Homo sapiens: one gene and its partners. The protein of the gene in region 3 purifies or fractionates together with the protein of the main gene of each other region. This does not show direct contact. Each region holds a gene or a part of one and is shown on either strand. Other genes may lie near its edges.

Evidence for each region.
Region 1: the proteins of NUAK2 (region 3) and FLNC purify together in Homo sapiens (affinity purification with mass spectrometry; 2 studies listed by BioGRID and IntAct, with this or other methods). This does not show direct contact.
Region 2: the proteins of NUAK2 (region 3) and PPP1R12A purify together in Homo sapiens (affinity purification with mass spectrometry; 4 studies listed by BioGRID and IntAct, with this or other methods). This does not show direct contact.
Region 4: the proteins of NUAK2 (region 3) and FBXW11 purify together in Homo sapiens (co-immunoprecipitation; 4 studies listed by BioGRID and IntAct, with this or other methods). This does not show direct contact.

The regions. Positions count from the first base shown.
Region 1 is NC_000007.14:128,825,070-128,834,256, reverse strand, and holds the start of FLNC (filamin-C), read right to left. Parts: upstream 3,852-9,187; 5' UTR 3,620-3,851; coding exon 3,268-3,619; intron 1-3,267.
Region 2 is NC_000012.12:79,791,015-79,799,534, forward strand, and holds part of PPP1R12A (protein phosphatase 1 regulatory subunit 12A), read right to left. Parts: intron 7,571-8,520; coding exon 7,480-7,570; intron 6,382-7,479; coding exon 6,181-6,381; intron 5,937-6,180; coding exon 5,768-5,936; intron 4,746-5,767; coding exon 4,624-4,745; intron 2,915-4,623; coding exon 2,849-2,914; intron 1-2,848. UniProt on the Homo sapiens protein: Key regulator of protein phosphatase 1C (PPP1C). Mediates binding to myosin. As part of the PPP1C complex, involved in dephosphorylation of PLK1. Capable of inhibiting HIF1AN-dependent suppression of HIF1A activity.
Region 3 is NC_000001.11:205,303,703-205,312,222, reverse strand, and holds part of NUAK2 (NUAK family SNF1-like kinase 2), read left to right. Parts: intron 1-397; coding exon 398-518; intron 519-3,490; coding exon 3,491-3,642; intron 3,643-3,992; coding exon 3,993-4,058; intron 4,059-5,915; coding exon 5,916-6,035; intron 6,036-6,683; exon of another isoform or gene 6,684-6,792; intron 6,793-6,891; coding exon 6,892-7,024; intron 7,025-7,709; coding exon 7,710-8,520. UniProt on the Homo sapiens protein: Stress-activated kinase involved in tolerance to glucose starvation. Induces cell-cell detachment by increasing F-actin conversion to G-actin. Expression is induced by CD95 or TNF-alpha, via NF-kappa-B.
Region 4 is NC_000005.10:171,860,582-171,864,691, forward strand, and holds the end of FBXW11 (F-box/WD repeat-containing protein 11), read right to left. Parts: intron 3,521-4,110; 3' UTR 968-3,520; downstream 1-967.

The DNA of each region.
Region 1 (9,187 bases), on a different chromosome or scaffold from region 3:
AGCATGTAGATAGATCTTTGGAATTCAGCTTACTTGTAAAGGGCAATGAAGTTCTGAAATCTATCAGCTTCCCAAAGCACTGCTTTCAGGAGGCTGGAAGGGGGTGGAAGACAGTCTTGTTTACTGATGTTGCCCGAGAGATGGGAGAGGGTGGAGTGGAGCCTTCCCCTTACACATCTTCTCCCCTCCACCCTTCCCCAGGTCTTGGGGAAAGTGTTAGGAGACCGAGAGCCTGGGAAATCCAGGGCATCCCCTGCCCCACTCCCACCTGCCCCGGGAGGGGTGCCTCAGTCTCCCTGTCCCTCTGGCTGGGGCTCTGGCCGCCTGGGCTCCCCCACCCTGTCACTGATTCATCCTTCCTTCCCCAGCAGCTCCCCAGCCCACCCCCTTCCCCTGGCTCCACTGCAGCACAATGGTTTGGCAGCTTTCAGATTCCATGACACACTCACTCCCTGCCTCCCGGTGCTTTCTCTCAAACACACAGGCTCCAACACTTTCACACAGTCTGGATGCCCCAGTGCCCCCAGCCTCTCACAACCCCGACAGCCTCCAAAGCTCACACGCCCAGAAGTACTTCTTGCAAACTGGAGCCAGACCCCTGGGCAGGAAGCCTTGAGGCTGCAGGGGTTGGGGGGGGCGGTGTGTATATGGGGAGGGTGGTCATTCATATTTGCTGGAGAGGGAAGTTTCTCCCCAGCAACTGGCCCTGGGCCAGACAGCAAGTGGTCCAGGCTTGGGGCAGGAGAAGGGCAGTGGGGCCCCAAGTCCCACTCTGGAAGCAATGACCTCCCTCTCCCTCCTCCCTCTCGGAGGCCAGGCAGAGGAGAGGAGCTCAGCGCCACCAGGGCTCACCAAGCCACTTCTCCATCTGCCTAGGGATACCCCCAAAGGAGTGGGAGGAGCCAGACAGCTAGTTCCCGAGGCCACCCCAGGCCTCAAATGGAGGGGGAGGAGAGGGCTGGGCCTAGGGAGGTGCTGGGACAGCTGCTGCCCCCTCCCGCCCCTCCCTTGGTTGTTGGCTCCAGGAGAAGGAATAGCAACTGGGGAACAGCTGCGAGACAGAGCTGCCTCATAGGCCTCTTTGTTCGGAGGGAACGAGGGGCAACGGGGGGCCAGGACAAGGTGGTGAGGATATGAAGGGCACAGCTCCTTTAACCTGGGCTCAGTGCCCCTTCTTCAGGTGGGCTTGGATCCCAGCTGCTACTCCAGACCCTGACTTCCCTCCTGGAAAGAGAAGTGGGGAGTCTTTCTGACACCCCCTGAGGTGCCCAGATGCTCGATTTCGGTGCTGAGACAATACTCAGAAGGTGGCCCCATGGATAGCCCCTTTCCACCACTAAATGGAGTAGGGGAGCTAGCAGAAGCAGGATGCCCCTGCCTCGTGGGCAGCCCCTTTGAACCTCCTCATGGTGGGGCGCCCCAGCTGGTCGCTGCCGGTGTCCCCTCCCCTCCAGCCTCAGCCTGGGGCCGGCAGCTGAATTGCTGACAGCTTATCTCATCAGCGCCAGTGAGCCACTTGGCCCAAATGGGGACTGCCTCCCCTTCCTCCCAGCGGGAACCAGGGAGCTTCCCTCCCACCCTCAAACCAGCTTTTGCTTCTTCCCCTCTGCTCTGAGCCAGCCCCTCCTCTGCTGAGCCAAGGGGGCTGGAGCCAGGCACCGCCACGGGGGAGGGGAGAGGTGTGCTCAGGAAGGACGAGGCCTGGAGAGGGGCCGAGAGCCCCCGCAGACTGGAGGGGAGGGGAAGGCTGAGCGGTTTCCTATATGTCTTGCCGAAGCCTCCGGCTCTTCCCCCAGACCCCACCTGGTACAGTCAGTCCTGCCTTTCAAAACCCAGCCTGCTGAGGATGCCGGCCCAGGACTGACTCCTCTCTGACCCCTCAGCCTCCATCACGTAGCCCTCAGTCTCACTACACACTCCAGGCTCCCTCCCCCACCCCCTGCCCTCAGCCTTGTCCTTCTGGAAAGCTCAGAGACATCTGCTGTGTCACGGAGGCAGGGCTATTTCCAGGACAGGGCAGGCGGGTGGGGTGGGGGGGCAGTATTGGGGCAGGAGGGGGTAAGGGCTAGGGAGGGGACTGGACGGGGCAAAGGGCCCTGGGCTGACCTCAGCTGCTATATCAGGAGGCCTAGAGATGGCCCCAAGGGAGAGTGGGGCTGACAGACATCAAGTCATCTGGAGAAATCTCAGGGAACATCCTGTGTGGGGCCCACCTGGCCCCACATGAAACTCCCCTCCTGGGGCCGTGGGGTGCACCGTCCAAGGACCTCGTCCTGCAAATCCCAGCAGGGTTCTTAAGAGCTCTCCACAGGGGTGGGCGGGGGGATCTTCCCCAGGCCCCCAGCCTCAGGGATGACTGCAGGACTCTGAGGGCAGGACAGCCTCCTGCCACTCCAAGCCCACCCTTGGCGTCTCTGCTCCCAAGACTAGAGTGCCTCCCCGCCCCCACCCTGCACTACACACCTTCCAAATCTGGTTACACTCAAAGACTTCCTCCCTTCCACAGGCCTTTCCCTCCCTCCCCGCAGCCCAGACCGTTAGCTGCAGCCAATCCCGCGGTAGGGGGTGGGCTGGGGCAGGGCCTGGACTTGCGGAAGCCCCCTCCACCGCAGGCTGAAGCAGGAGGAGGACAGACAGGGGTTAAGTCTCCCCGCGCTCGCTCAGTGCCTTTTTAGGTTTCTGAGGCTGGGCCCTGCCTGTCCTGGCCCCCGGGCCTGAACCCAGCTGCTGAGCACATGCACGAAGAGGGCCTCCCGCGCCAGCTCCCCTCGGCCCCAGAGCCCGCAGACGCGGGCAGTGGTTGGGGACCTGTCTTCAGCCCTCTCCCAGCCCGCGGAGGGGCTGTGAAGCTGGGAAGCCACTTGTTTTGTTGGGGGCGGGGAGATGCCCCCAGGAATCAGTGACAGGCACTGGTTCTGTCCTCCCGAGTGTGGGCTAGGGTTGCCCGATGGAAGGAAAGGGAACGGTGAGCCGAGGCGGGAGGTGGGAATGTGCATGGGGAGGCGGCAGCTGGAGGGCTCGCAAACCCTAAGGCCTGGACTCCCCGGGGCACCCAGGGAGTGCTCGCTGTCCCCAGAGGGGTGTGCAGGCAGTGCCCATGGCCCTTGTCGATGGGTGGGAGGGCCGGGGCCAGGGTCTTCTCTCTATACCGGGGGGTGCCCTCCGCCCTGTCTCTCAGCTCCCCGCGCGCCCACCCCGCACCTGTGCCCCTGCCCCATGGGACGACCCTATCCCCGCAGCGCCCGTGCCCTCGCCCCCGGCACTGACCTATGGACACGAGCTTGATGTGCTCGCGCTCGAGGAACTCGAGGGCCACGGACACGTTCTCCAGCTTCATTTGGCGGAAGTTGGGGCGCGGATGGAACTTGCGGTACATGCGCTTCTGGCTGAGCACCTCGAGCAGCGCGATGAGCCGGAGCCCGTCGCTGAGGTCGCGCTGCAGGTCGGTCAGGCGCTTGCCCACGCACTTGAGGTGCTCATTGCACCAGCGCGTGAATGTGTTCTGCTGGATCTTCTTCCACGGCGCGTCCTCCGCCAGGTCCTTCTCCGTGGACGGCATCTCGTCTGTCTCATCGCCCAGGCCGAGGCCGGCGTCTGAGTAGCCGCTGTTGTTCATCATGCTGGCGCGGGCTGGGGGTGCGGCCGGGGCTAGGGCCGCGGTTTGGGCTATCGGGGGCTGTCGGGCGCTGTTGGGGCGCGACCACGGGACTCGCTGCGCTGCGCTGCTCTCCTCTCCAACTTCTCTCGCGCCGGGGCTGGCGGGGCTCGGCGAGGCTCGGCGGGCCTCCTAGGCGCTCGGCCGCTCTCTGGCTCTCTCTCCCTCCAGGGCCGGAGCGGTGCTCGGGAAGGGCGGGCTGGGCCGGGGCGGGGGGTTTAAGAAGCCCCCGGACCGCCGCCCCCCCGCCGCGCCCGCGGCCCCCGGGTCCACGTCAGAGCGCCGGCCTCCCAGGAATGCCGCCCGGCCCGCGGGTGGGGGCCGCGCCGCACAGGACGCCCCGCCCCCGCCGCCCCTCCCCCGCGCCGCCCGGGCGGCGGGACGGGGTTGAGGGCGCCCACCCCCTGGGCCCCCGGTGCCGCCGCGCTGGAAGGTGGCGGGGAGGGCCGACAGTTCTCCATCCACACCCAACACACCAAACTGTCAGGAATGAAATATGCTCCCTCCACACCCCGCACGGGCTGAAGAGGTAAATGGGGAAACTGAGGCCAGTGATTAGGGCAAAACCCACTGATCTGGTGTTCACAGAATTTTCTAGACTAGTTGGTGGCAGGCTGTTGACAGGGCCTGCGAGGGCTGGCTCCTAGCCCAGGGCATTGTCCACCTGTGGACAGGGAAGGGAAGTGTGTGTGCTTGTGCAGAGACGGCCTGAGAGGAAGCAGGGACCTTGCCCGGGCCAATGAAGGAGAAGCCTGCGGGGGGGCGGGGGGTTGTGTGTGCCTCCCAGCCATTGCTTGACTTTACAGATAGAAAAGCCTCATGTAGGGCCCAAATCCAGAGGCCCAGGAGTAAGACCGGGGCCCCTGCCCCTGACTCAGTGTCCCTGTCACCAGCCCGTTTGGCCTCATCGCCTCGGTATGAAGCTGAGCTCAGGAAAAGGGTACCCAGTGACTCACACTGTGTATCCCCCTCCCCCAAGTCTGACTCAACTGAGATGATAAGAGGGGAAGGAGAGACTCTTCCCCCATAGTGCCAGGGAGCCCCCTGGGCAACATGCCCATTTGGGCCACAGGGCAGATCCTGCCAGGGAAAGGGTGGGTCAGCCAGGCAGAAACAGGGAGAGCCCCAGCCAGAGCAGCCAGGGGGAAATGTGACCAGGTGGGTAGGCAGGACCAGGGGCAGAGTGGTCAGGGAGAGCCTAAGGGAGCCAGCTGGGATGCCCAGGCAAAGCTGCACTCAGGGCAAGCCAAAGGCTGCAGGCCTGGGGAATAGAACAGCAGGGAAACCGAGGCACCCAAACAGACTCTGGCCTGGGGTGAGGAGAAAGAGCTAGAGAACGTATTTCTTTTTCTTTTTTCTTTTTTTTTTTTTTTTTTTTTTGAGATGGAGTTTTGCTCTTGTTACCCAGGCTGGAGTGCAATGGCATGATCTCTGCTCACCGCAACCTCTGTCTCCCAGGTTCAAGCAATTCTCCTGCCTTAGCCTCCCAAATAGCTGGGATTACAGGCATGCACCACCACGCCCAGCTAATTTTGTATTTTTAGTAGAAACGGGGTTTCTCCATGTTGGTCAGGCTGGTCTCGAACTCCCGACCTCAGGTGATCTGCACGCCTCAGCCTCCCAAAGTGCTGGGATTACAGGCGTGAGCCACCGTGCTGGGCCTAGAGAATGTATTTCTATAAGGAGAGGATCCATTCTGCAACTTTGTAACATACGTGCAGCCATATCTCCCAGTTCCCCCTTTTTCAAGCCATGTGTCTTCAGCTTTCCCATCCTTCTAGACCTAGTAAGTCTAGCTGAGCTGGCTAGGAGGCCATATCTGAGCCTGAGAAGTTTCTTTAAGCCAGGGAAGGTTCTGGGCCCTTTTAGATGAATCATTATATCTAATTCCTCTTCTACCCCTAGACCTGGTGTAAAAGAAGGGATAGTGAGCATCTTTGGGGGCTCTTTCCCCCAAGGGCCAATGAGGGCACCCCCTGTTACGGAGCTGAGGAAAAAGTGTCAGGGTTCTGTGGGGGCAATGCTTATGATGACAGGGGTCTATGAATGAAATTGCCTGGTCCTTAGGTAGGGAGGGGGAGGAGTAGAGAAGGGACCAGAAAGAGCAAAAGGACCTGCTGTGTGTGGCTGGAGGTGGGGGGAGCTGTGGGGACCCTGATAGTGACAGGCGAGGTATAAATAGCCTGGGCCCTGCGGCTCATGTTCTGTCGGCTGCCTGTGACGAGGTGCTCAGGAATTCCACTCTCCTATTGGCAACCCCTTCTCCCTATCTCTAGAACTCTCATTCTCCCCAAGCCACCTTCAACTCATGGCTAAATCCACCCATCAGGCACCCGTGCTGTCCATACACTTGAGAGGCTGAGCTCTGCTGTGGAGAGAGGCCCCGCTCCTAGGACACGCAGCTGGGCCTCACAAGGGAACTGTGTATGTACAAAGGCCGACTTCTGACAGCCAACCTGATGTGCCAAGGGCTCAGGGTTCAGCAGTGCTGCCTCTGAATCCCTGGTGAGTAAACTGAGACACAGATCTGAGAAAGGATGCATTCCTCTTTGAGCTGCTGGGGAGGAGAAAGGGTTAAGGTGAGGTAGCTCGGAGCTGACAGCCCCTTTACAGACCCTAATGGTCCACAGTCCTGTTTTGCAGGCATTATCTGAGGTCCCCCAGCCAGCTGAGCGCCTCTGTTCAGGTGGAGAGGCCGGAGGAAGCCAGGGAGGGGAGAAGGAACTCCCAGCGTAGCTTCCCTTGCTTTCCCTCTGACTCAAGAGCTCGCTCCAGGGGAGGTCAGTGTGCGGGTCCCAGGGGATCAAGTGAATGGTTGGCAGAGGAGAGGAGGGTACAGAGTGCCAAAGGATGATTCCCGTCACCCCCCGCAACCGTCCTCAGAAACCTGAGCCTGTTGCTCTCCAGGATAAATCGGGGCCTGACTCAGGCCCCAGCAGCCAGTGACACTCAGCCTGACCCAGGCGCGGGCTGGTGACTCAGCCCTCAATATAGCCCATGAGCCCAGGCCCTGGGCCTGGCCAGCCAGGCTGGAACAGACCGTGCACAATGCTGGGCCCGGCCTGCCAAGTAGGGCCCCCTCCCCGAGGAGCGCTGACATGCTCCTCCCCAAGCCAGGCAGGGGCACACAGGGGGTTACAAGGGGTTTCATCAGCTGAGTATCTGGGCAGTGCTGGCTGGGGCCACAGGCTGTTTATAGCCCCCTGACTCACCACCTGCTGACCTATCTCAGGAGACCAGGTTGCCTGGCTCTTCACCTGGTCCTGCCTCTGCCGTCAAGGGGCTCTGCTCATCAGCCACCAATACTGGCCATATTTATCTTGGGCTGAGCTGAATCCAAGTGAGCGGATACAATGAGCCATGTTTGAAAATCCTGTTTTTCTGGAACCAGGGACATTTCCACAGTCACCTGTGATGATACTGGGCTGGCCAGGTCATAACAGGCACTTTCAGTGATACTGATACTGACTGTGGCTCTGACCCAGGTTCCAGGGACAGTGTGGTAGAGTGGAATGATCCATGGGCTGAATTCCAGCCTCTCTACTTCTAGCTCTGCAACCTTGGGCAAGTAATGTAGCTCTTTTGGGCCTGTTTTCTCGTCTTTTTTTTTTTTTAATGTGTGAAAATGGAAGGAAATCACAAGAAAGATGATTAGCATGGTGCCTGGCATCTAATAGGTGATCCAAAACAATTAGTTTGCTTCCTCTGATTATCTTGGAGACTAAGGGGTTCTGGTGAGAGAGGCCTTCCCCTGCAGCTCTGTGTCCACACCTCCGTGGGGACCACTGCCTGGATCTCCAGGCTGTTCCCCTCTCCCCTTCCCTGCAACCCAACATTCCCTCTGCCACAATCAGAACCGGCAGTACCTGTCATCTTTAGAACCACCCACCCTGCCCCAAAAGCAGCTGGTCCTTGACAGGAGTGGCAGCGGGTGGCTGCTCTACCTCTTGGCCTGGGAAGGGAAACCAGACAGGGCTAGGCTGCAGGGAGCTCACAGAAAGGAGGCAGTTATGCAGAGGGCAGCAGCGGGGAGAGATGGAGGCTCCTGAAGGTGCTTTGAGTCCCTGGTTCTAGCACACCTAGGCCCAAGTGCACGCCTGCCTGTGGCTTCCAAGGCATACCCCTCCAGACTTAAGATCAATCCCTCCTGTCTTTTTTTTTTTTGGTATAAATTTAGAGGGTGCAAGTGCAGTTTTGATACATGGATATATTGCTTAGTGTGAAGTCTGGGCTTCTAGTGTAACATCACCCAAATAATGTACATTGTACCCATTAAGTAATTTCTCATCCCTCCCCTCGCCCCATGCCCCGACCGCCCCCCTACCCCTCGCCGCTCCAAAGTCTCCAATGTCCATCAGTTCACATTCTATGTCCCTGTGTGCACATTATACACATTCTTTAACTCCACATTTTTTTTTTAAAGACGGAGTCTTGCTCTGTCACCCAGGCTGGAGTGCAGTGGCACAATCTTGGCTCACTGCAACCTCCACCTCCTAGGTTCAAGCGATTCTCCTGCCTCAGCCTCCCGAGTAGCTAGGATTACAGGCACCTGCCACCACGCCCAGCTAATTTTTGTATTTTTAGTAGAGACGGGGTTTCCTCATGTTGACCAGGCTTGTCTTGAACTCCTGACCTTGTGATCCACCCACCTTGGCCTCTCAAAGTGCTGGGATTACAGGCGTGAACCACTGCGCCCGGCTTTAACTCCACTTATAAATGAGAATATCCTACTGCCTTTTTTTTAAGCTAGCTCAAGTGAATGTTTCACATTCAACAAAAAAGATTCCTCTTAAAAAAAAAAAGATTCCTCTTTAATACGCCTGGGTAACAGTGTATCATTAAGACAAGGAGACAGTCCAAACCAAATGAAGAGAATGGGATTCTAAAATGAACGGAGGGCCGGGTGCAGTGGCTCACACCTGTAATCCCAGCACTTTGGGAGGCCGAGGCGGGCGATTCACTTGAGCTCAGGAGTTTGGAGCAGCCTGGGCAACATGGCAAAACCCCATTTCTGCAAAAAATACAAAAATTAGCTGTGCGCGGTGGTGAGCACCTGTAGTCCCAGCTACTCTGGAAACTGAGGTGGGAGGATGGCTTGAGCCTGGAAGGTGGAGGTTGCAGTGAGCCGAAATTGCACGAGTGCACTCCAGCCTGGGCAACAAAGCCAGACCCTGTCTCAATCAATCAATCAATTAATCAATGAAATGAACAGAGAAGGACATGTCCTAAAGGGAGGGGTTTTGTAGTCTAAGCAAAAAAGTGGGAAAAGCAGGCCCACATTCCTGTCATTAGGCAGGGTCTAGGTTCAGGTCCCCTAGCTGGGGACCACCCTACTAGAACCTGACCTCTATCCTGGCTTGTAATTCCAGGTTAAATCAGTGATCTTTGCTGTCTTAGTCCATTTGGGCTGCTGTAACAAAACACTATAGACCGGGTGGCTTATAAACAACAAGAATTTATGTCTTACAATTCTGGAGGCTAGGAAGTCTGAGATCAAGATGCCTGCAGATTCCATGTCTGGCGAGGGGCCTA
Region 2 (8,520 bases), on a different chromosome or scaffold from region 3:
CTGTAAATTTCCTCTGCAAAACCAATTTTAACTTTGCTCCTTACATTGTTTTTTAAGGTAATGTTTTCTTTTATTGATTTATTCTTTGGTTTAACAACAACTAACAATTTTAAAGAATAAATTTCAATTTTCAAGATAATCAAATTCAGTAAAATGGCCATTCCTGAACTAAAATGTCTACATATCAAACAAAAATAATACATCTTACCTTATAGTCTGCACTTACATTCACTGATTTAAATTTTAACAATAAAAAGTCTAGTGAGAAATCACTCAAATTCCATTATCTTTAAAAATCATGGTGTTATCACTGATTATTATTACTATTTTTGAGATGAGGTGTCGCTCTGTTTCCCAGGCTGGAGTGCAGTGATATGATCACAGCTCACTACAGCCTCGACCTCCTGGCCCAACTGATCCTTCTGCCTCAGCCTCCTAGTTAGCTGGGACTACAGGCATGCACCATCACATCCGACTAATTTCTTAAATTTACTGTGGAGACAGTGTCTCCCTATGTTGCCCAGGTTGGTCTTGAACTCCTGGGCTCAAGCAGTCCTCCCACCTCAGCCTCCCAGAGTGTTGGGCTTATAGGTGTGAGCCACCATGCCCGGCCTAGCATTATTTAAAAACTTTTAAGAATTGTGGTAAAAACCACGTAATATAAAATTTACCATGTAAACCATTTTTTAGAGTATATAGTTCAGTATTTTTAATTATATTCATATTGTTGTGCAAAAGATCGCTAGAACTTTTTCATCTTGCAAAAATAAAACTCTATATCCAATGAACAACTTCCTTTGTCCTCCTCTTCCTAGCTCTGGCAACAAAGGTTCTACTTTCTGTTTCTATGATACCCAAATAAAATAAGTGGAATCACACAGTTCTTGTCTTTTTGTAACTTGCTTATTTCATTTAGCATAACGCCCTTGTTCCCCAAATTTTAAGATTAATTTTCCAAAGTAAAAATATCTTTTTAAAGATAAAAAAGATTAAAATATATAGAAAGATATTCAGAAATATCTTTCTGACTATGGTATTGTAAAGTTCACATAATGGTATACAAAGTTCCTGTGTAATTCCTCATCCCTCCATTCTCTAGATAACCACTGTTATCTAACCAACCTTTTCTGGACACATAATATCTATGTGAATATAGAAAATATTGATCTATGCACATACATTGCACCTTATTTATTTATCTACATCCATTCTTCCTTTTTCTCATGGTATAGCAGTTACTAGGTTTAGGTGAGATGACACATGGCCCATGTTGGTAGCAAAATGGCTGCAACAGTTCAGTGATAGGCCCTGTCTATCCTAAGCCAACTATAATCCTATCCCTATGAGGTACATCAGCCTGAGGATGAAGCTGACACAAAGGACTGCAGAATATAACTGGAGTACAATACATTTTCTTTGTTTAATCCAGTTTGACTTAGGTTTCATATTGTTATTTATATTTGTTATATTTATTTATATGTTATTCATTACTTTAAAAGAACTCTAAACAATCTAAAGTAAACAAAAACTACTTAAATTGAAAATAAAAAAACTTTTCGTCTTAGAAACAATGTTCCTCTTCATCTTAACGTATCTCATATGATTTTAACAGTAAAACTTAAAATACAGTATACATCAATATGCTTCAAAATTACAACTTTAAAAGCCAGACAATCTCCCTTCCACTCCAGCCTGGTGGGGGCTGGAGTCTGCGTGATAAGGCAATGAGAGGTGTCAGATGGGGATGGTTTACTAATTTCCTCCCCTCTTGTTTAATAAAGAAGGGACATAGGTAAATTGGGGAGTTCTGATAACTGATAACCAAAAAATTTAGGTAACAGTTAAAGCTTTAGGCCTGCAAATAATTTAACCTCAGAACCAATTCACTCCTCATTGTCTGGCCACCTAAAGATAAAATAAAATTGTGGGGTCAAAATAGGCAAACTTGGCCCTAAAATAATGTTCACCGTCACCTAGCACAGGTAACCAACTTTTGTTCACATTACTGTAGATCCTTGCTGACTAAAAAGAAATGTAATAGCTCTATTAAGGAACTTCAACTCAAAATGAAGAAAATAATATTAATATGACCAGAATGCTATTTCATGCTAGACAGTGCCAGGTTTAGACTCGTGTTGTTCAGCTCTATCCTCATATGAACAGAAATATTTTGAATATTTTTTAGCTTTCTACACAGCCAAACAATCAGGAAGGGGGTCGGGGGAACTTTCAACCCTTGCTGGCTGTGCAGCCTTGTCATTCAAACTTGCTTTAGGTCCTTCATCAGTACTGAGAGGAAAAAAATGTCTTTTAGATTCTCAACATAAAAATCTGTTGGAGACTCTAAATTTCTAAATATATGTAAAAGAAAGTTAAAAGATGCCTATATTCTCCAGAACATAACTTTGAAATAAAATCTACAGAAATAAAATCTGAGCCTACTACTTCTGGATTTCCACTACTTCTGATTATCCTTTAGATATTTTCCTTTGGCCAAGGGTACTATTTCTTTTTTTGCTTTTTCTTTTAACTCCGAAGGTTAAATGACATACATTAAATTACATCCACTTAGAGTGTACAATTTGGTGAGTTTTGGCAGTTCTGTATATCCATAAAACCACTGCTAGGATCAAGACTCAGAACATTTTCATCACCTCCAAAACATTATTTTGTGACCCTTCCCAGTCCTTTTAATCCTGATCCCCAGGCAAACACTGATATTGCATACCCAGCATGTAGGTAGAGTATGCAATAACTGCTTTGCATGAATAAACATAATAAAACGCAATTTAAAAGTAATTATTAAAAAATATGAATACTTCTCAATACAAAAAGTAATGGTATTTACCTGAGTTTCTTTCTTATTGGATCCCTCTTCTGTGTCTGATTGTTGTTCTTGTTCATTTTCATCACTCTAAAAACAGATTGCCAATTTATATTTTAGGAAATTTTAGTAATAATTTCAAAATTTATTTTTTAAAATTATTTTTGGGAGTCCTTCTCTCTCAGAATATACATTGAGACATTTGTAGATAGAATGAGATGTCTAGGATTTTCTTCTAAATAATATGGGAGTTGGGAGATGGAGTGGGAATTTAGCTGAAAAAATGAATACTGGGGGTAGGGCTCATTATACTATTATGTTACTTCTATAAAGTATATGTTTAACTTTTCTATATTAAAAATCAAAAGAAAAATAGAAAACTATTTTCCGATTTCCCCATCTGTTCTTCCCTTCTTTGTCATTTATGTATGATTTTCCCTCTCTTTTTAAACTTTTTTAAATAGACATATGCACTCTTGATTCATCAAGTTGAATATATATTTTGTCCACAGCATGGACAATGCGAAGATACTAAAACTCTTCAACTCCATTTAATACTTTCCCATATTTTTGTGCTATTGTTTTCATATGCCTTAGCTCTTTATATATTTTAAACTGCAAATGACAATGTTATTTGTTTCATGTAATTAAGTAATTAGTAATTAAGTAAAATTAAAATGGACTGAAACACTGCAATTAAAAAAAAGTTCAGAAAAAAGTTGACCTAAATATGTTGTTTATTAAAAAAAACACAAATAAATTGAAAATAACAGAAAAGATATATTATACAAAGATAATCAAAAGGAAGCTTTTCAAAAAAGCAGAATTTAAGGTCAGATATAATATTAGAGATAAAGAGGAACATATAGTGAGAGATGGGTCAGTTTAACAGGAAGACAGATGATTCCATGTTCTTTCAGTGAAAGAATAGTTAGAAATTTTCTTTAAAAAATATTTTTATAACAATAGAAGTAAATGTACTGCTACATAAAATAGCATAGATATATCTTATAAACATAACAGTTATAAAATTTATAGTTCTAGTCATATGCTCTTCAAAAACAGGCATAGTTAACTACGGTGTTAGAAATCAGGATACTAGCTGACTTTGAAAATGAGGATGATAGGGATTGAGAGGGAGAACATGGGGGCAATCTACACTGCTGTTTTTATTCATCATTCTGAGTGGTGATTACATAGATATGCTCCTATTGTGCTAATCCATTAAGCTATACATGTATGAATTATGTTTCTAAACATGCCATACTTCAATAAAAGGTTTATTTTTTAGAAAATGGAAACAAAATCAATGAATAGCAATGTCAGGCCTACAATCAAGGACCAGGAAAACACTAATTTTTACAAGACTGTTGTAATTTGATAAGCAAAGCACTGTGTCTATTTAGCATGCTTTGAGATGGAAGTAATCTGTAATGTAGATCTTATAATGATATTTATGAAAATGAAATTAAATAGACTCCTTAGAAATTCTTAAAAGATGTTTTTACAAGAAGCAGTTTACCTATTATAAAATAATCAATACATGCACTCTGAGCTTCAGACATTATTATTTCTATTCCATAATTAGGTCAGAACCACTCCTTTTAAGTAGTACCAACAATCTAAGTAGTTAACTATCCTTAAAAATAATTTTTCTTATTTAACAACTCAGAAAACACAGTGATGATTTAAGGAATATGAAATCTAAGGCATATAAGAAATTATTAGTATGTATTTTTGGACACATTAAGAATACTATCAAGAATACTATCAAATAATGTATTTTAATAGGTTCTCACATCTTGTGTCCAAAATGAAACTCCTGTAGATCTTCTTTTCTCTCTTGGTCGTCGTCGTTCTCTGATTGATTTAGGTTGTGATTTATCTTCTCCTTCTTTCTCCTCTTCTCTTTTTTCTCCCTCTGTTAAGGATTGCAATGAACCACAATATAGCAATATATCTTGACAATATTTTGCAAGGTAATTGTAAAAACAATGGGTAAAATGGGCCAGGGGACTATCTAGGGGGATGGAAGGTAGGCAGCTGCTACTACTTAGCTCCAGCCAATTGTTGGTATGTGAGAATTCAGATCCAGTGTTGCCAGGTCAGCCAACTTTTCAAGAAATGGCAAAAATCTGAAGTTTGAAGTGAGTATCTCTAATTTTAAATGTTGGTTCAACATTTTTACAAACACAATGCAGGCCTCACACATAGAAGTTTAAAGAACTGAAACATCTCAATGATCAACATGAGAAAATATATAGCTGGAAATTGGGAAAAAACTTTATTTTCTGCTGTTTATTCTACATTACTACTGATATTATCATGACTAATACTGTAAGATTTAGGCTTTAAAATATGAAATGCCTATATTTAGTACTTATATCTGATTTAAAGTAGGAATTACTCAGAATTTAAATAGAAAGTTTATATAAAATAATAGGAAATGGTAATGAGTATCAATATGCCAATATATAGTTGAGAAAGAAATGTATTTTTTAAGAAATAAGCATAAAAATGTGTTTTAGTGAGAGCATTACATGTAGTTAGTAATTTTAGTTTACAACAATTTCACAAAAAAACATTTAAATGATATGATCTACACAGTAGGCAAGAAATAGCTTAAAGCATCTGAGAAGTACTACACTAGTAAACTGCTTCTAGAAATAGTCACCCACCAGTTCGATATTAACTTTTCGTTGTAGGTGGACATGAAGATTTTTGTGAAGTATTAGGTTATAAAAATATTAGTATCAACAGCAGGCCATATTCTATTTCTGTTTTCTACTTTTCTCATTCTCAACCTTCATATTCTTTCTGTTTAGGTTCGATGAATCACAAGTTAGGATGCTGTTCCTTTACTGTTGAATTATTATTTAGGAAACCCTAATCCAAAGGATTATATGAAGAAAGCAAAGTGTTTTCAAAATTTGGTATTCTTACCTCTTTCATTTTCTTTTGTTATTCCTCTGGAGTAAGCAGAAGTTATGCCTACAAGACTATTTGGCCTGTTTAGTTGACTTGAAGCATACAGTGAACTGCTCATAGTAGAAAGTGAAGAGGATGGAGTGGTTGAACTTGAAGTTGATACTGGCCTATAACGCTGGTAAGTCTGTGAAACATTAAGATCAAAACCCATTTGAAACATTAAACACAATTAAAAACATAAAAATACTTAAAAATTCATTTCAAAGAAAAAGTAGTATACTAATCACGCCAAAGTAATTCAAATTTCCAGCTAAAATCCTTTACAGTATTTTGCATATGGTTTGTTGGTATATAAATCTCTTGTATGTTAAGGATCATAAGGACTATTCATACCATTTGACTTAAATGTGCTTTTGATATACTGTTACCTCATCATACGTTCTGGAGTACTTTTGTTTATATTCATCTTCTCTAGATGTTTCTGACTCCTTCTTTTCTTCTTGTTTCTCTTTATCTTGTTTCTCTTTTTCCTCTTTTTCTTTTTCTTCATTTTCTTGTTCTCTGGTTCGGGTAGAACGACTTCTTCCTATTGTTTTCTCAGCTTCTTGAAGATCAGTTAATGTCACTCCCTGCACACACAAAAAGATCAATATAATTATGAGATGCATTAAAGCTTGTTTCAAGGAATATTTTAGAAATAGATATATTACATACAAATGCATTAAAAGTCAAATATGCATGTTTAAAATTGGTTTGCAAATGGAAACAGCAAGTTACATTCATTCTATGAAGAATCACCATTAGCAAGCACAACGATAGGTACTGGATACTCTATGCATATAAATGTTCCCCACAAGTTCAAACTAGAGAAGAATAGCCAGTATCTGTACTGTTTGTATATTATAAATATTTATGTTTATATATATGTCTGTGTGTGTGTATATATATGTGTGTATATGTATCTATATACACATGCATGATGATTGTTAAGGCTTAAAAGAGATTTCGATAAATTTTTCAAGATTTGACCTTGAAGAACAGGTTAGATTTCAAGAAGTGAAAAGTATAAAGACAGAAAAAGTATATTAAGGCCCTAGCAAATAGTTCAGCTTGAAAGCTAAGTAATGGTAAGGATAGACAGCTGAATCTGGACTGTGGAGCTTCTTAACTGTGGGAAAGCAGAAAGACACAAAAGTATACATCATATACAGCATAATCAGAATGGCAAAACGGAGGTAAGGAGATCGCCAGCCTGAATGACATTTTCTTCATACTTGCATATTAGTTGTTTATACCTAATATACGAGCCTATTCTCTGCCCCCGATTTCCAAATATTCATAGAACTTTTAAATACTTATTAGACATCATATGATTAATTTATTCTAACCAAATACTCTGGGCCAGACACTGTATTAGGAATAAGGATTTAAAAAATACTCAAAAAGACACAAAGGCATATGCTAATTAGATGAAATACAATAGTAGCAGTGTAACCATACAAAAGGCTATGAGCAACCTTTACCTTTTAAGGATTTATTCACACTAGAATTACTAGAATAACTACAGCAACCTTTACCTTTTAAGGATTTACTCACACTATATACTGACATCAATATTTTCACAACAAAGTGAAAAAGAGAAAGGTAACTTGTTTTATGTCAGTGTGTGTATATATATTTTATATGCTACTTATGTAAGTTTTATATATTAATTACATTAACTATACCTGTGTTGATCTTCTAGATTGTCTTGCTTGTCTAGATCTTGCTTTTCTTTGGGATTCAGACTCTTCATCCCTAACAGGAGTGAGGTATGATCTACAGTAGTAAATTGAAAAATCGTTAGTTGTAAATACAATACCTGTGAATGTAAATATCTATCAATGCATATGAATAAAACATACAGGTTTAATATCTTAGTAAGTTTTAAGGAAAAGTCTTCAGAAAATGGTCTTTGAAATTCAATAATGCAATCTTATAATTTCTTTTTAGATTGGAACTAGTTATATTTTAATAATTATATTTTAACATCACATTTTAACTTCCTAACTACATTTTTTAAAATAATGTAATTTAATTTTAAGATGGAACCACATTTTTAAAAAGGATTTAGAGAACTGAAGATTAAAAATTTTAGCTCTATTGAAAAAAATAGAAGGATTTCATTTAGCCCAATTAAGCAGAATGGATAAGGAGTAAATTTTTTGTCTGTTTTTAACTGAGGAAGGTCCTCTTCTCCAGCCCTGAAAACATCCCCCAAAAGTGATAATCTAAGCATCTTACTTAATGACCTACTAAAAGGGGTTTTAAATTATTCTCTACCTACAGTATTTTCAAATATTGGAAGACAGGTATCAAATTCCTTTCTAAATCTTTTTTTTGTTTGTTTTGTTTTTTTTTGAGACAAAGTCTCGCTCTGTCGCCCAGGCTGGAGTGCAGTGGCGCGATCTCAGCTCACTGTAACCTCTGCCTCCCGGGTTCAAGTGATTCTCTCACCTCAGCCTCCTGAGTAGCTGGGACTACCTGCACATACCACCACGCCCGACTAATTTTTTTATTTTTAGTGGAGATGGGGTTTCATCCATGTTGGCCAGGCTGGTCTCGAACTCCTGACCTCAAGTGATCTGCCTGTCTCGACCTCAGAGGGTGTTGGGATTAAAGGCGTGGGCCACCGCGCCCGGTCTCCCTGCATTCTTGTCAGTGTGCTCTTACTAATGACACGTCAGACAACATATTATTGTTCATACTTTTGAGTGCTCTAAAAAATT
Region 3 (8,520 bases):
CTACTGTGCTCAGCATCAAGAATTCAGTGGTGAGCAAAACTGGCTGGTCCTTGTCCTCATGGTGCAGATTGGCACGTTTGCTTTATAATTCATAACGCATCAGCCTTGCAAATGCAGGTTTTTACCTTCCTTGTCTATCTGTAGACTATGAATAAGGAGGTGACTTGTCGATATTCCTTCCTGCTGCATGGACCATGTGCACTCAGCTCAGGTGAGATCTTTTTCTAGAGAAAGTGCTCTCCAGCCTCTCTGCCACCTACACTGGTGAAGGATGGAGTGGCTTCTATGGGTGTACTCTGTGGCCTTTATAGCAGCTACAGGCAAACCACCAGGACCAGGGCCCCCAGAGTGTCCTCTGCCAAACCTTTCTCCTCACTCTCATGCCTTCTCTTCCCAGGTGGCCATCAAGTCAATCCGGAAGGACAAAATCAAAGATGAGCAAGATCTGATGCACATACGGAGGGAGATTGAGATCATGTCATCACTCAACCACCCTCACATCATTGCCATCCATGAAGGTACAGTGGGCACTTAAAGCTGGAACTTGGGGGTCTATGTGTGTGCATGTGTGTGTTCACATGCGTATGTACATGTGTCAGAAGAAACAACATAAAGAAGTAAAAAAAATATAGGCTCTAGAGAAGAGCAGGAGCTGGATTTGAAACTCAGCTGTATGACTTTGCACAACTCATTGAATTTAGTCTCTGGGCCTCAGTTCCTCATTTATAAAATGGGGTAATCCCATCTACATCACAGTGTGGTTGCAAAGATCAAACTGTTTATGTCATTGAATGCTCCACTCATGGGAGGTACTCAAGGAATTGCAGGTTTTTTTGTTGTTATAATTCGGTTTTCCCTACTTGAACACTACCTTCCCAACCCAGTGAGCTCCTTAGCAATCTGGGGGAGGCTGAAACATACATAGACCTGCACCTGTCTCAGGTGCGTGGGTGCTATTCTTCATGCGTCCCAAGAGCCAGACCTCCTAGAGTCTGACCTGGGCTCTGAATCATTCCTGCCACAGGGCTGGCTCCTACCTCTCCTTGTCTTTCTTGGCCTCCTCTTCTCTGACATCAGTGCTGATTTCACCACTCCAGCTGCCCTCCTCCCCATGACCCAGACAACAAAGTGAGCAAGAGAGGGTGACGAAGGAAAGATGGGGAGCCCTCTCTTACACACACCTGTCTGCGTCGAGACTTTACATAATATCAGTTAGATGAGAAGCGAGGGATAGCAACAGGAGGGAAGAAAGGGAGACTGTAACTCTGCCCTTTGTCTGTATATTCCTGGTGGGGAAAAAAATAGAGCAGTCTCTGCTCTTGGGTCGTGTTCATAGAAAGATTAAGGGTAGAGCCTTAAGGGTAGAGCCTTAAGACATAGCCCTGTGGCTTAAGCCTGTCCCATGAAGAGCCAGGCAAGTGGCTGAGAAGGCTAATTTTATCTCTGTGTGTGCTTCCCTCAGGGAAGAGTGGGGAGACAACAAAGTATTGGTTAAGCCAGGCTGAGTGTGGTGATTGGGGTGTGTGTGTGTATATATATGTGTGTGTGTGTATATGAATTCTGCCTTACACCCATATCTCCAGCTAGGCTGAGTGTGGTGATTGGTGTGTGTGTGTCTGCATGTGTGTGCGTGTGCATGTGTGTGTGAATTGTGCCTTACACTCATATCTCCAACTGGATCTGGGAACTGAGCACTGCAGCTCAGGGTATGGCTTCTCTGGCACCTTCAGATTCAACAGACATAAGAACATCATAGTTACTGTGTGTCTGGAGGGGCTCCCCCAAATTCATCCCCTTCCTGCTACTGGCTTCAAGGGATGTGAGGTAGCGGGTGTGCCTCAGTCCTGGGAAATGACATCTAACCTAGCTGTTCTCCAAAATGTGCCCTGGCTGGCTTTTGACTCCCGATTTTATGGCACAAAGGCTGCATGCACCCTTGCAGAGATGATGAGAGCCATAGGGGTGGAGTCTCAGCCAGGCATCCCCAGGAGGCTGGGCCTCCACAGATAAGGGCCATTTATTCCTGTCCCCCTGGACAAAAGGACAGTCCTCCTGGCCATGTATCCAATTCCCTGGAAGCTGGGACTCCTCTAGGGAGAAGGCTCTTCACTTCACTCCTTCTCAGAGCCTAGACAGCATTAGCTCTGGGGCAGGCCAAGCAAGCCAAACTCATAGGACCCGTTTGACACAAAGATGCAATGTCAGGGACATACATGTTCTAATACACACCAGGCAGAAGGGCCAGTTTGGTGAACCAGCCACTCCCTACCTAGTCTTCAAGTGGCAAGAGGGCCACTCCTACCCAGAGAGATGAGCCAGCTGGGATGAGGTGGCTGCCAGGAACCCAGCCAGTCAATTAATTACCAAATATGTATTGATTGCTTCTGTGTACAAGGCCTTATGCATGAGGCCCTGCCCTGGATCCTCTGGATGGAAGTCAGAGATGGTGATGGATATCTCAGCTCTCCCTGGTGCTTTATAGTTCATGATCCACTTTAATATACTTTTATTCCCTCTTCTGATCCTCAAGACAGACATTATTATTGGCCTTATTTTTCAAATGTATGCATGAGGGCACTGATTATAAACATAACTGTGGCCAGGCGCGGTGGCTCACGCCTGTAATCCCAGCACTTTGGGAGGCCGAGGCGGGCTGATCACATGGTCAGGAGTTCAAGACCAGCCTGGCCAACATGGTGAAACCCCGTCTCTACTAAAAAATACAAAAATTAGCCTGGCATGGTGGCGCGCACCTTTAATCCCTGCTACTCGAGAGGGTGAGGCAGGAGAATCGCTTGAGCCTGGGAGGTGGAGGTTGCAGTGAGCCGAGACCACGCCACTGCACTCCAGCCTAGGTGACAGAGCGAGACTCTGTCTCAATAAATAAAGAAATAACTGTAGGTACCATTTATCGAGTGCTTGTTTATATGTCAGACCTATACCAGCTTGCTCAGCCAGCCCTGGAACTGCTGTTGACTTTTTATATTTCTCACCCCAGCCCTGTGAGGTTGCCTTATTATCCTGCTTTTCAAATGAGGAAACTGAGGCACAGTGGTTTAATGACTTGTCCAAGATCACCCAGCAAACCTGCATTCTTACTCATGTATCTAGAAGAGATTTGCCCAAGGCCACAAGGTGAAAAAGTACCAGGTTCTTGAACCAAGGAGCCTGGCCTTTCATTCCCATCTAGTGACGTCTCTGCCTTCCTGAAAGGGCAGGGTCATTTTCAGAATTCCCAAAAGCCTGAACTTCCACGGAGGCAGAGGATGAGCCAGTGTCTTTGGCCTTAACTCATGGCTCCTGGAAGATGCTGAGAACTTCCAAGGCCCTTCTTCTGCCCTTATTTGCCACCGTATAGCCCCATTAGCAGATATTCCTGGAGGGGGGTCCTGTCTGGTTTGGGGCCTGGGGTCGGGGAGGAGTGAGTCACCCCCAGTGGAGAGCAGTGCACTCTGGGAGGGCCTGACGTTCCTTGCCTTGCTCTGCCCAGTGTTTGAGAACAGCAGCAAGATCGTGATCGTCATGGAGTATGCCAGCCGGGGCGACCTTTATGACTACATCAGCGAGCGGCAGCAGCTCAGTGAGCGCGAAGCTAGGCATTTCTTCCGGCAGATCGTCTCTGCCGTGCACTATTGCCATCAGGTGAGCACCTACCTGCTCCAGCCATATTCTCAGTGGGTGGTCCCCAGGGCTCTAGGGCTGTTTTGGACCAGAGAGGTTCCATGACTTGTCCAGGATCACACAGAAACAGAGGCAAAACTAGATTCTGGACTCTCAGGGAAATGTCAGTGTCTCTGACTTTGAGTCCCTTCTCCGCGGATAGAAGGGCCCGTGATTTCTTGCAGCACATACCGATAAAGATAGGCATTCCCAGCCTACCTGTGCTCAAGCCCACTTGGCTCCCTTTGTGTTTACCTCAGTCTCCAGACTGGGCCCCTCATCATCTTCCCTTCCCTGGTGACCTTCCCGTGACTGCCCTCTCCTTCTTTCAGAACAGAGTTGTCCACCGAGATCTCAAGCTGGAGAACATCCTCTTGGATGCCAATGGGAATATCAAGGTGAGTCCCACTTCTTATTTCTAGAAGCCTCCTTGCCCACCCCAGCTTTTCTGCACTGTCCCCAGCCAAGTAGCTCTAAGCTCTTGGTGGATTCCTGAAGGAGCTGAGCAAGGCTGACCTTCATTGGTACTGGTAGGGACCTCAGCCATCATCCATTCCAACACCTCATTGTGTGGATGGAGAGCTGGAGCCTCAGCTGAGGGGTGCTTTGCACAAGATCACACAACTAGCACGTGGCTGAGCCTGGACTAGAACCAAGATCTTCTGATTCCCAGATGAGTGCTCCTTTGATGTCATAAGGCTGACAGGAGTCTAGATCTAAGGTCAGGTTTGCTACAACCTTGGGACAGGCCCGGCCTGAGTTCTTCTCATGTATGTACACACTTGCATACACACACACATGCATGCTTTAATCTGGTACAATTAGATAGCCCTTTGGAAACTTCCCACAGATGAAGGACTCCAGCTCCAGCTTCCTGCTTTCTGCAGCTGCTAGATTTCCATGCTTAAGTAGTTAAATTTAGGCATGGAGAAGTTCATGTTGATGGGATAAACTGAGATCTCAGGGCTGGAGGAAGGACATGGCACAGGGAGGCTGGCCCCTGCAGGCATCTGGGAAGGTGACGCTGCACTCTGACCCTCTTCAGAATCTTCCTGAACCCAGGACATAGTCTCTTCCAGTGGCTTTTGACCTGTACCCTGAGGTGCCCTGGTACTGAGTTCATTCCCTCTTACCAGCCAATTCCCGGAGCAGGTGGGGCTTTCTTTGATGCTGAGCAGAAGGGAGGGAAGCCAGAGCCAGTAAACCCGCATAATCAGGCACAAACATGGACAGGCATGAACTTTCCTATCTGCACCAATCATGTGCTTCATTATGGGCTTCAACTGGTAACTGCTTGATAAGAGGCCAATAAAACCATAAACAAAGGAGCCAGAGTTTCATAAACAGCCCCTCCCCACCCTGAATACACATAACCCTCTGATGTGGTGAAGAGGTGGGGAGCACCAGGGCATGGCCTCAGCCTCTAACTGAGGATAGGTGGGAAAGGGTCTCTCCGGGCAACGAGACGATGGGGTTGGGTTCTCAAGCCCTCAATATCAGATGGTTCAGGGAGTCTTGGGCTGTAACCACAGCCCTGATGTTTGTTCTGCCCTCATTATTGCTTCTTAGCTATATTGGGCTGACCCCAGGTTCCTGCCACCAAGTTCTTGCCCCGGTGTGCACACAGGAATGAGCCCTTTGCTAGGAAGGGCAGCTCAAGTCTTACGTGGTTCATTGGTTATAGGGCTTGCTTGTTCCTGAGGGCCATGCCATTATCATGAGGTGCTGGCTTTCCCCCTCCATCTGGCTGACCCTCCTTTCCATCACTAAACATCATTAGAGCCTCATGCAGGGTCTCACCTGGGCTAGCAGCTGCAGGAGAGGTGGGGGCAAGGAGGTCAGCATGGGAGTGTACAGTCTGTCTGGAAGGCAGATCTAATGAGCAGGGGCTCCAGGGAGGCATTGGAAACTCTAGGCTTCTAGAAGGAGATGGGAGACTTTCCAAGGGATATGGGCATGAGACAGCATCTCTGTAGTGGAATGCCATGTGAGCAAAGTGGTCTGGGGAGCAGTGAGGATCCTGGAGCCCCCGCAAAGCTCTGTCTAGATGCTCCTTATTGACACAGCTCCTCAGGGTTCGTTCTTCCAGGGCCTGAGCTATGCTGACAGTGCTCAGTGTGGGGTAAGGGTCATGGGGACCCTTTCCTTCTATTGGAGCTTGGGTTTCCCCAGGGTCTGGAGAAGGGCGGGCCAAGAGCTGCAGAAAAACCCAGGCCTTGACATGACCTGTGCCCGTGTTTGACTCAATCCTGCAGATTGCTGACTTCGGTCTCTCCAACCTCTACCATCAAGGCAAGTTCCTGCAGACATTCTGTGGGAGCCCCCTCTATGCCTCGCCAGAGATTGTCAATGGGAAGCCCTACACAGGCCCAGAGGTAAGTGGCCACCCTCCCCTGCCAGCCTGCCTCAGATGTTTACTATGACTTTAGATCCTGGGAGATTGATGGGCTAGTTTTCTCGTTATTCACATTTTCAGAGCACAACTCTCAAGCCTCCCAAAAAGTAGTAACTTGCCAGGTGTCTAGCCAGGAATGGCAAAACTAGAACTAGGCCGGGCACAGTGGCTCACACCTATAATCCCAGCACTTTGGGAGGCCGAGGTGGGTGGATCACTTGAGGTCAGGAGTTCGAGACTAGCCTGGCCAATGTGGTGAAACCCCATCTTTACTTAAAAAAATATAAAATTAATGGGGCTTTGTGGCACCCACCTGTAATCCCAGTTACTTGGGAGGCTGAGGCAGGAGAATCACTTGAACCTGGGAGGCAGAGGTTGCAGTGAGCCAGGATCATGCCACTGCACTCCAGTCTGGGCAACAGAGCAAGACTCCATCTCAAACAAACAAACAAACAAAAACCAAAAAAACCCCTAGAACTAGAACTTAGGTCTCCTGACTCCTAGGTTAGTTCTTTGCCTCCCTCACATTCCTCATTCCTGTTACCTTTCCCAGCACCCAGTCCAGCCTCCTGAGAGTGATGTAGAGATGATATCTGTCACAACCACCCCTTCCCCAGCCCGGAAGAGATGACCTGGCTGTAGCTCTTGTGCTTGTGGCTGTCCCTCGCAGGAAATGCGATTGACAACATCTCAGACCCCTTCTGCAGCATCCCCGTCTTGGCCCCTGGGTAGGAGAGGTGGGTCGTCCTCAGGTGTGCTGGCCTCTGAGTTCTCCAGCATGTAACATTTTCCTGTCTGGTATGGGCATCCCTGCTGACCTCCCCCATCTCTCTCAGGTGGACAGCTGGTCCCTGGGTGTTCTCCTCTACATCCTGGTGCATGGCACCATGCCCTTTGATGGGCATGACCATAAGATCCTAGTGAAACAGATCAGCAACGGGGCCTACCGGGAGCCACCTAAACCCTCTGGTGAGTAAGAGGTGTGGGCGTTCTTATCCAGGCCTGGGGTGTCCTTCACTCATTCCTAAGGCAGAAACTACACAGTGGCACTAAAGTCAAACGGGCAACAGTCCATCATGGCCCATGGTAGGTTAGGGTACCCTCCACCGTATGTCCAATGTTGAGACCTCTGGGGAAGGAGGGGATAGCTCTTTCTTTCCCACAGGGGCATGTTTGATTATATTTGGGAAGTGGTTCCTAAGGTCTCACTTAGATCTTCTTTGCTACAGTTGTCTCATTTCCTATTGCTTTTGTTCTCATCTTCAGAAATCTTTTTGTCCTTCACTATGACTCAGAAGGCAGGAAGAAGGGTGTGAGAGACCCAGTTTACCCTGAACACAGTCTCTACCCTCAGAGGGTTGAATTTCAATGGAGAGAGAGAGGATAGACACCAACATACACACAAGGGCTTATGAAGGGGTCACAGTCCTGAGGGGTCAGAGGACAGAGAGGCAGCTGGAGGAGTCAGTCCAGGAACTCTGGACTGGGGAGCTGTCCTGGGCCAAGGCATGTATAGAGCCCTAGGTTGGAAGGGACGCATCCGACCCAGGAGTATGCAGTGTCATAGCTCAAAAGGGGATGAGCTGGGGACAGGGGACAGGGAGTGCCTATTCTGGGAGCTGCCAAACTGAAGCACCTGCCTTTTGTCTTCCAGATGCCTGTGGCCTGATCCGGTGGCTGTTGATGGTGAACCCCACCCGCCGGGCCACCCTGGAGGATGTGGCCAGTCACTGGTGGGTCAACTGGGGCTACGCCACCCGAGTGGGAGAGCAGGAGGCTCCGCATGAGGGTGGGCACCCTGGCAGTGACTCTGCCCGCGCCTCCATGGCTGACTGGCTCCGGCGTTCCTCCCGCCCCCTCCTGGAGAATGGGGCCAAGGTGTGCAGCTTCTTCAAGCAGCATGCACCTGGTGGGGGAAGCACCACCCCTGGCCTGGAGCGCCAGCATTCGCTCAAGAAGTCCCGCAAGGAGAATGACATGGCCCAGTCTCTCCACAGTGACACGGCTGATGACACTGCCCATCGCCCTGGCAAGAGCAACCTCAAGCTGCCAAAGGGCATTCTCAAGAAGAAGGTGTCAGCCTCTGCAGAAGGGGTACAGGAGGACCCTCCGGAGCTCAGCCCAATCCCTGCGAGCCCAGGGCAGGCTGCCCCCCTGCTCCCCAAGAAGGGCATTCTCAAGAAGCCCCGACAGCGCGAGTCTGGCTACTACTCCTCTCCCGAGCCCAGTGAATCTGGGGAGCTCTTGGACGCAGGCGACGTGTTTGTGAGTGGGGATCCCAAGGAGCAGAAGCCTCCGCAAGCTTCAGGGCTGCTCCTCCATCGCAAAGGCATCCTCAAACTCAATGGCAAGTTCTCCCAGACAGCCTTGGAGCTCGCGGCCCCCACCACCTTCGGCTCCCTGGATGAACTCGCCCCACCTCGCCCCCTGGCCCGGGCCAGCCGACCCTCAGGGGCTGTGAGCGA
Region 4 (4,110 bases), on a different chromosome or scaffold from region 3:
TGAGATGGCCATATACTCAGTCATCCCACAGATGCTGACTGAGTGCCTACAAAGTGTTGGATTCAGCTCTGTGCAACAAGCCAGCAGGAGCCCCAATATCTTAGCACTACAAGACAAGCTCCCAGAGTCTTCACCGGCTGGAAGAGCAAGCTGTGTATAGAAAAGAGGGTATCTATTGAAGGACATGAAAGAAACTGGTTAACCATCATTTGAGGGACTGGGGGTTAAGGGGGAGAGGAAAAATTACTTTTTACTCTTATCTTTTTGTGATTTGTAAATTGGTTCTCTTAACCACATGCATGACACATTTGAAAAACGTTTTCTACAAGAAAAACGGGTGGGAACAATTACATAGAAATACTCTAATCTCATGCAAAAAGTCCGCATTACCAACTGGGTTGACTAATGGGGGAAGTTTAGCCTAGCTATCAAAAAAACTCAGCTTCTACTCAGTCCTACTGAATAGAATTTCTGAGTAGAATCCTACAGATACTAACTCGACTTTTTCTGCTTCAATACTCTACCAGTGACACACTTGCACACACAAAACTATTCATTTCTGATGCTATGGTGGAGAGGGCTGCGAAACTGCCCCTCACACCTCCATGGCCCTTCTTCAAGAAGGGGAGGATCCACTCACACCTGAAAGCCACTTGGGATGTCTCAGAGGCCATTTTCATGTTGACAGTAACTTGTGAAGCAATTAATTATGTGTGGGAAGCAGATTTGCAGGGCAAGAGTTCTTAGCTAGCCCTCAGCTAACTCCTGAAGTTCAAGCTAGCTTTCGGCAAAAGCCCAAGACAAGGAATCATATCATCTACTACAACATTCTCACACGCCAAAACCAGTTTGCCTTCAAACTCATTTTACAGAACAGATGATTCTAAAGATCTATAAATTTTAATTGTATGTCACTGAATTCCTAACAGCACTTAACAGTTTCTTTGAAAAATTTCTTAACAGAACGTCAGAGTATTGCAACACTTTATTAAGAGTATTGGCTTTGAATCAGTAGCTGAAGTAACAATTGCATGAAGCCAGATTAGGTGCACTGCATAATACCCATACTCGATTTATTGACATTACTTAGCAATTTACTGGACAAAAGTCAAACTTTTTTGTTTTTTATTAAGCACATTCCACAGTACAAAGCTGTCATGAATAATATCTGTACAATTTAACAGTTTCAATAGCTGTTCAGACACAAATTTATTTCAAACAGATAATTGGCAAACATAATTAATTACAAGTTAGAATTAGACTATCCCAGTGCTTTAAAACATTAATATAGCAGTAATTTACATTTGCTCAGTTATGGTTAGCAAAATAAAGTCCAGAGTATGGCTGGGAATTACTATTATAATCCCAGAAAGTCAGAACTCCTTGGGTGCCAAAGTCCCCTGCTATAATTTAGTAGGCACAATTCAAAGGTTGTCTGCATATTCAAAGGCCATCATCTCCCAAGGAACGAGGGGAACTTCTATATTAAACATGCAAAAACAACAAAAAATCCATTCATTCATTCAGAATTGCCTCCTCCCCTGCCCCCTCCCTTCCCCCTGGGCTTTCCTAACCAGTTTGATATTGAAGCTGTAGGATGAAAAGTGGTCAAAGCTAAATCACTTTCACAACCACCATCAAGCTTACAACATCCACCTTATGAATGGAGGTTTATTGTTTACACTTTGAGACTCAACCTCTCAAAAACATAAATTAATTTAGTAACATGGGAAGGAAGGATTTTATTTTTAAAAGAAAAACTAAAAAAGCAAAGCCAACTCAATAAACAAATCACATACACACACACTGATCCCCACACCGTTCTCAATGCAAAGGACAAATCAGAGCCCAGGGCCTTCCCTTTAGTAGTAGAGTGTGCTTCCACGGGAAGAGGTTTACTTTATAGGAGGCTGTTTATTGGTCCTTTAAAATGTTATTGACATTCCTTGATCTTTGGAAACAATGGCGAAGGGCAAATCAAACCTAATATTGAATAAGGGAGAAGGAGTGCCAATTGGATGCCAACGTCCTTTCCATGCACTGTCAGGGCAACAGTGCCATTTACACATTTGGGCTGTGTCGTAGGGAGGACTTGGGAGCTTTGAGAACCTGCTGGGGCCACAGCAGCAGCTGACACCAGAGATGACTGGGGTGGCATTCATGGGCTTGAGGCTTCACTCCACTTCAGAGCACCCACCCCTCAGCATGGGCCTCTGAACCAGCCTGACCTGCCCTGCAGGCTCCAACACACCAGCAGGCCCTGCCAGAACCTTGGCAAGGCCAGGATGCATGAATTCCAGAGCCAAGACAGCCCGTCAACAGGGCCTTCTTATTTCCCCTTCCCAGGGCCACGACTGCACAGAATAATGATTTTTGACAGCGAAGCCAAATGAATACTATGGGAGGTGACCACTTGTACTCAGGAGTACTTATGAGAAAAAGAATAAGAACAAAAAATGTTTAAGGTACCTCTCTATTGTATAATATATACTCCACAACAAATAAAACATTTTGGTGTTAAACCTTAGAAATTACATTTTAAAACAAGATTCTCATTAAAAACACACACAAACCACACACACGCAATGACAACAACAAAATAAAAACACTGTATGAATACTGCAGGAAGGGTTCTAGGTAATCCACATCAACCCAGGTATCAGGTTCTTGAGCCCAGCCCATGGCTAAGTGCGAACACACTCTGTATTAGTGTCTCAAGCACAGGGGGCCCTGACTCCAGCAACTTTGAGGTTAAACTGTTATGTACATTATATCTACATGCGAATACAGTATTTTAAATTAGGAGGCAAGCACACGTATAAAGGTGTTACTCTACCAAATATCAGGAGATGGTTGGGGGACAGAGAACAGTTAATAAAAGAAAGAGCTATATTACCTGTTGGTAGATAATATAACTGACTTATAGTTCTTTAAATTAAAAGAAATTGGTACAGAAAGGAAGTATAATCCCAAAAATATTACTAAAACAATCCAGAGAAAATTTTCCACTGTCCAACATGTTCCTAATACAACAAGTCAGAATTCATAATGACTTGGACGGTCAAAAGGAGAATGCTAACTTTTGAAAATGAAAGCCCTGGACATTCTGGGTAGGTGTTTGGCACCCAAAATTTCACTGAAGAAGAATGCTGTTTCTTAATATCAAACCAAAGTGCAAAGCAATATAAATTAGAGGCCAAGTCTTCTCTTGACGGTCGATTTACTTCTGTAAAACAGATTCTATGTTCCTTTTCTATGAACAATTTACATTTGAAACATTAGATTTTTTCACTGATGAGGGAAGGAAACGGGCTTCTGTTCTACTTGAAGCCGGGGAAGCTAAGGTCTCCTTCTCAAAGGAGAGCCGGAATCAGAGGTGAGAAATGTCGGTACTTGAAGAGTTAGGCTGCTTTGCATCTACCCAGCGTCTAGAACCAATTCCAGCTTCATAACTCAGCTGTGAACGAACTCCCTTAGGCATTTGGTAGCCACGTAGCCAGTAGTTCAAGACTAGAAAACCCTGAGGAAAGAAAAACAGAAGCAAAGGGAGTGTGGGTGAACATTCCGTTTAGATGAGAATACACACACTCCACTCCACCCCCTGCACACAGCTACATGCAAAACTTATTAGCATTAACAGCAGAAGCTGTAAGTTGTTCTGAGTGTACTACATACCAGGTATCACATTTATTTCAACCTCACAACAATCCTGTGAGGAAGAAACTATTATGACACCTGCTTCACAAATAAGAGAACTAAGGCTCAGAAAGGCTAAGTGTTTGGTTCAAAGAGTCAACAAGTGACAGAGAGGGGATTCAAGGAGAGGGCTGACCCTATAACCTATCACTCTCTCAGTACTGCTCTGAAAAAGTACACATATAACAAAAGATGCTTCACATTCGATTTTATATTTAGCATAATCTTTTATGACATTCAGAACCTACAAGAGGCCAGTCTCACATCCTCACGAGAGCCCTCATCGATCACAAGGAAACAAAAATATGCAAAAATTAGCCTTTCTAAAATAGAATGCTAGTAATCAGAAATTACTTCCTTTTTAATAAGTAAATCATTGGTAAAACAACAACAGTATGGGGGAAAGGCCACTGA